Homo sapiens: one gene and its partner. The protein of the gene in region 2 purifies or fractionates together with the protein of the main gene of each other region. This does not show direct contact. Each region holds a gene or a part of one and is shown on either strand. Other genes may lie near its edges.

What was found.
Region 1: the proteins of CNR2 (region 2) and COPB1 purify together in Homo sapiens (affinity purification with mass spectrometry; one large-scale study listed by BioGRID and IntAct). This does not show direct contact.

The regions. Positions count from the first base shown.
Region 1 is NC_000011.10:14,472,268-14,475,923, forward strand, and holds part of COPB1 (coatomer subunit beta), read right to left. Parts: coding exon 3,518-3,656; intron 2,349-3,517; coding exon 2,228-2,348; intron 1-2,227. UniProt on the Homo sapiens protein: The coatomer is a cytosolic protein complex that binds to dilysine motifs and reversibly associates with Golgi non-clathrin-coated vesicles, which further mediate biosynthetic protein transport from the ER, via the Golgi up to the trans Golgi network.
Region 2 is NC_000001.11:23,869,976-23,872,805, reverse strand, and holds the end of CNR2 (cannabinoid receptor 2), read left to right. Parts: 3' UTR 1-2,291; downstream 2,292-2,830. UniProt on the Homo sapiens protein: Heterotrimeric G protein-coupled receptor for endocannabinoid 2-arachidonoylglycerol mediating inhibition of adenylate cyclase. May function in inflammatory response, nociceptive transmission and bone homeostasis.

The DNA of each region.
Region 1 (3,656 bases), on a different chromosome or scaffold from region 2:
TGGGTGACCAGCTAAATTGTCAATGAACAGTAATATTTTAAAAGGAGTCTTTTATTTCTGAGCAGTAGGTCTCAATGGTGAGCTTAAAATACTTAGTAAGCCATCCCGTAAAGAGGATGTGCTGACATCCAGGCTTTGTTGTTCCACTGACAGAGCACAGACAGAGTTGATTAAGCACAATTCTTAAGAGCCCTAGGATTTTCAAAATGGGAAATGAGCAATGGCTTCAACTTAAGTTACTGGTTGTATTAGCCCTTACCAAAAGAGTCAGCCTATCCTTTGAAGCTTTGAAGCCAGGCACCGACTTCTCTCTAGCTACCAAAGTCCTAGATGGCATCTTCTTCCAATATAAGGTTGTTTAGTCTACACTGAAAATCTGTTGTTTAGTGTGGTCACCTTCACCAATGATCTTGGCTAGATCTTCCAGATAACTTGCCACAGCTTCTCCATTAGGACTTGCTACTTCATGTCAAACTTTTACATTATGAAGACGGGCTTATTTCCTTAAACCTCATGAATCAACCTCTGCTAGCTTCAAACTCTTCTTCTGAAGCTTCCTAACCTCTCTCAGCCTTCATGGAATTGAAGAGAGTTAAGGTCTTAGTCTGGATTAGGCTTTTGGCTTAAGGGAATCTTGTGGCTGGTTTTATCTTCTATCCAGACCACTCAAACTTTCTATCAGCAATAAAGCTATTTCGCTTTCTTTCTTCTTCTTTTTTTTCCTCGAGACGGAGTCTTGTTCTGTCTCCCAGGCTGGAGTGCAGTGGTGTGATGTCAGCTCACTGCAACCTCTGCCTCCCATGTTCAAACAATTCTCCTGCCTCAGCCTCCCAAGTAGCTGGGAGTACAGGCGCCTGCCACCACACCTGGCTAATTTTTGTATTTTTAGTAGAGACAGGGTTTCACCATGTTGGCCAGGCTGGTCTCGAACTCCTGACCTCGTGATCCGCCTGTCTCGGGCCTCCCAAAGTGCTGGTGTGAGTCACCACGCCTGCCAAATGTTTCACTTTCTTATCATTCATGTGTTTACTGGAGTAGCACTTTTAATTTCCTTTAAGAGCATTTCCTTTGCATGCATAACTTGGCTACCTACTTGGCAAAAGCAGCCTAGCTTTTGGCTTAGCTCAGCTTTTGACATGCATTCCTTACTAAGTTTAATTATTTCTCACTTTTGATTTAAAGTGAAAGACATGTGACTCTTCCCTTCACTTAGAAGCCACTGTAGGATTATTAACCGGCCTAATTTCAATATTGTGGTATCTCAGGGAATAGAATAGGGAGGCCCAAGGAGGAAAGAGACGGGGTAACAGCCGGAACACACACAACAATTATTGATTACGTTTACTATTTTATATGGGAATGGTTCCTGGCATCCCAAAACAACTATGATAGTAACATTAAAGATCACTGATAACAGATCACCATAACAGATGTAATAATAATGAAAAAGTTTGAAATATTGTGAGAATTACCAAAATGTAACACAGAGATATGAAGTGAGCATATGCTTATTTGGAAAAATGATGCTAACAGACTTGCTCAACTCAGGGTTCCCACAAACCTTCATTTGTTTAAAAAAAAAAAAAAAAGCAATATGTGCAAAGTACAATAAAATGAAGTATGCCTGTAAATGCTATGTAAATAATTGTTACACTGCATTGTTTTCAACTTTCTATTATTTTTTACTGTTTATCATTTTTTAAAAAAGATATTTTCAATCCATAGTTGGTTGAATCTGCAGGTGCAGAAGCTGTGAATATGGAGGACCAACTGCATACCATTGTAAATGGGTGTTTGGTTAGAACGGTCAGAAGCTACAAAGCAGGCATGAACTACAGATGAGAATAACTTAAGAGACATTCTGGGATAAAACAGACAATGACCGAATGGATGCAGATGCTGGAGAGAAGGACATTTCCTTCACTGGTCCTGAACTAATCCCAGCAAACTGAGGTGACTTCATAAATCCTTTCTCTTCCACTGGAATAATCACATGACATTGTTATTGTATTACTTTGTCAATTTTCATTTTTTTAAAGCCCAAACAGAAGAGGAAGATACTTTATCAATTTTAGAGTAATATATTACTGTGTCCACTTCTGCTATTAAATCATAAACTCTTTCATGACAGAAACTTAGCATTAATTTTTGAGTCCCTCACTGTTCAATGCATATAGTAGGCACTCAATGTTTAATTGTTGGTTAAATGTAAAATAAATGAACTTACATTTTGCTTTTTCTTCTCCTGAACCAAAGCTACATAGCGCAATGCAATCTTGGTCAGAGTTGTGGCAAGGGAGGCAGCAACAAAGAAATCTCCATCCAGAAGGAATCCTCTCAAGGGAGGTCTGCAAAGCAACCAAGGAAAATCAAACCCACCAACTTGCTAAGCAGCATGCAGCTTCTGTATAAATGAATGATATAGGCCTATTAAACACTCTTATTACCATCCTTCAGTGATAAGGATACCTTAGCTAACTAACTCCTTAGCTCCCAGAAGAAAGAAGGAAAAAGAAAAATAATACATGACTTTAAAACTTATCTTTGGCCAGGTGCAGTGGCTCACACCTGTAATCCCAGCACTTTGGGAGGCCAAGGCGGGCGGATTACCTGAGGTCAGGAGTTCGAGGACAGCCTGGCCAACATGGTGAAACCCCGTCTCTACTAAAAATACAAAAATTAGCTGGGCATGGTGGCACAAACCTGTAATCCCAGCTACTCAGGAGATTGAGGCAGGAGAACTGCTTGAGCCCAGGAGACAGGTTGCAGTGAGCCATGATCGCGCCACTGCACTCTAGCGTGGCCGACAGAGCAAGACTCTGTGTCAAAAAAAAAAAAAAAAAAAAAAAAAAGAAAACTTATCTTTGAATGACACAAAAGCCATCAGAATATGGAAAGATACAATATTTAATTAGGGGCATACGTAATTGCAGCTAATGAAGTACCTCCGAATTCCAGCTTACCTGTTTATTTACTGGGTAAGCCTCAAATTCTTCTTCCATAAAATGGAGATAATATATTCTATCTCAAAGGCTTATTGTCAAGACTATATGAGACAAACTACTTAGCACAATGCCTAGCACTTAGTGGGTATTCAGTAAAATTTTAGGCAAAGATTTCACCATCTTCACCATTAAAATTTACTTAATAGAAAAATGCACAATTTTATTCCATCATTTAGAAATTGAAAAATCTTCAAAATGTTTTCAGATGCTAATAAACAACAAAACTCAAATATCTTCAGTTACCCCCACTTAGCATTTTCTGAGTAAAAATAATTTGAGTTTAAACAGAACAGTTATTTCCATAAAAACACTGGAAGGGACAGAGAATTAAAACCATCAATACAATTCCTAGGGGGAAGAACTTAAACATCCTCCGCTTCTCAAGTACCTTAAATGGCAAAGATTTTCATTTTGGTTGCAAAAGCAAGAGGAAAGAAATCATTTGACTGTCTTACATACAAGAGTAATAATAAAAGTAGTACAGCTGGCAGGGTATATGTGCCATAAATTACCTGTCTTCCTCTTTCTTGGTGGGTCTAGAACTGCTAAGGGCACTCTGAGTTGCATAGGTACCCATTTCAGTAACCAATTTCTGAACTGGCCCTACAGTTATTTCTTCTTCAGGTTTTAATTCACCAGCTTCTTTCTTTA
Region 2 (2,830 bases):
GTAGGATAGACCTACCATGTGCCGGCTCACTTTTATTGAGCCTTTACTATGTGCCAGGCAGGGGGCTAAGTGTTTTTAAATGCCTTATTTCACTTCATGTTTCCCAACAACCTAATAAGAAGGTCTTAGTTATCTTCATTTTACAGATGTGGCAACCTCAAAGATGCAAAGTCACTTGTCTAAGGTCACCCTGCTAAGTACCAGAGCTGAGGTCTCCAACCTAGTTCTGTTTGACTTCAAAGCCTGCCCTCTTAACCACTAACCTTTTGTCCTAGTTCAGTCAAATTCTGCTTGATTATTGCTCATTAGGGATAATATTAGCTATCTGTAGCATCAGATTGCTGCAAAGTTAACTCATCGTAGATTCTCAATATACTCCATTTTATTAAATGGCCCCGTATTAATCTCCTGTAATAAATTTCACAAATCCAGTGGCTTATCAACAGAAATTTACTGTCTCATAATTCTGGAGGCCAGAAGTCAAAATCAAGATGTGGTAGGGCCCTGCTCCCTCCAAAAGTTTAAGGGGAGAATTATTCCTTGACTCTTTCAACTTCTGGCAGTCCCTGTCATTCCTTGGCTTGTGGAAACATCACTCCTACCTCTGACTCTGTCTTCATATGGCATTTCCTCTGTGTCTCTTGGTGTCTTTTTTTTTTTTTTTTTTTTTTTTGAGACGGAATCTCATTCTGTTGTCCAGGCAGGAGTGCAGTGACATGATCTTGGCTCACTGCAACCTCCACCTCTCAGGTTCAAGTGATTCTCCTGCCTCAGCCTCCCAAATAGCTGGGACTACAGGCACCCGCCACCACACTCAGCTAATTTTTGTATTTTTAGTAGAGATGGGGTTTCACCATCTTGCCCAGGCTGGTCTTGAACTCCTGACCTCAAGTGATCCGCCCACCTTGGCCTCCTAAATTGCTGGGATTACAGACGTGAGCCACCATACCCGGCCTGGTGTCTTTTTTAAAGAATATCAGTCACTGGATTTGGGCCCACCCTAATCCTAATAGTATGACTTCATCTTAATTTAACCAATTATATCTGTAGAGACCCTGTTTCCAAATAAGGTCACATTCACAGATTCCAGGTGGACAAGAAGTTTAGGCGGACACTATTCAACTCAGTACAGACCCAGGAACAAAGTCCACCCACTGGGCTGTGTTGAGTGGCAGTCACTAGTTTATCCTCCCTCAACAAGATGAGCTCCAGGTTGACCTCTGCATCCCCAGTGCTCAGTCAGGACCCAGCAGAGCATCTGAAGGGATCTGGTCAATATGTGTGGAACTGAACTGTTTCTGAAAAGCTCTGACGTATGTTTTGGAAAATCAAATCTTGTTTTAATCCAGACACCAATCTTTTTGTAAGGCAAACAAGTAGCATAAATGTTTAAAAGTGAATTTGCATGTTTATATACTGTCATTCCTTAAAGTTGAAGCATGCCTTTCTTTATTCATCGGTGGAATCCTTTCTCATTTTGGCAAAGAAAATGCCCAAGTGCCTGGCACAAACAAGCACTGAGTAAATACTTCTTGAATGAATAAAACTAGATTCTAAAAATCATTTGATCAAACGCAACTCCACACTTTCTACTTCTCTTCTTTTAGAACCACACTGTATTTCTGCTTTTTTTTTTTTTTTTTTTTTTTTTGACATAGAATCTCACTCTGTCACCCAGGTTGGAGTGCAGTGGCATGCAATCTTGGCTCACTGCAACCTCTGCCTCCTGGGTTCAAGCAGTTCTCCTGCCTTAGCCTCCCATGTAGCTGGGATTACAGGTACCCGCCACCATGCCCAGCTAATTTTTGTATTGTTAGTAGAGATGGAATTTCACCATATTGGCCAGGCTGGTCTTGAACTCCTGACTTCAAGTGATCCACCCACCTTAGCCTCCCAAAGTGCTAGGATTACAGGTGTGAGCCACCACTCCCAGCCCCTATGTCTGCTTTAAGTGGAGAAGCAGAGCTTATGAGGGAGGAGAACAAGGGTGCAAAAGGGACCTAGATATCACTGAGAACTGCCCTTGTTGTTTGGTTGAGGAAATGGGCCCAGACAGTGGACAAGACTTGCTCAGGGAGACAAACGAGATGGTGTCCAGTGCAACAAACCTAGGTTTCCTAACTTCCAGTTCTGTCCACTCTACATCAGTGCCTCTCACCTGTCCCTGCAGGTTCACATTTTGGTTATGTGGATAAGGAGAAATAAATTGAAGATCACAATGTCCCATTTTATCTTCCCCAAGACAAGCTCTGTAACATTAAAGACCACTATGCAAACCGATTACTAGAAAATGTGTGTGGATGGGTTCGGTTTTTTTCCTAAGGTGTTCATGCTTACTGTTTTGGGCAATATTTCAACATAATCTGGCAGAAAAAGAAACAGAAGATAAAGAAAATAGCTGTAGGCCGGGTGCAGTGGCTCATGCCTGTAATCCCAGCACTTTGGAAGGCTGAGGCTGGCGGATCACTTGAGGTCAGGAGTTCGAGACCAGCCTGGCCAACACGGCGAAACCCCATCTGTATTAAAAATACAAAAATTAGCCAGGCGTGGTGGCGTACCTGTAAACCCAGCTACTCGGGAGGCTGAGGCAGGAGAATGGCTTGAACCCAGGAGGTGGAGGTTGCAGTGAGCTGAGATTGCAGCACTGCATTCCAGCCTGGGCGACAGAGCAAGACTGCATCTCAAAAGAAAAGAAAAGAAAAAAGAAAAGAAAAGAAAAGAAAACAGCTGTGATTCAGCAATAGTCATTTTCTCTCCTTGTCACTGCCAGAGTGAGGAAGTGCTGGGTTCTGTCAACATAGGCTCTGACTTCTCATGAGGTGCAAGAAAG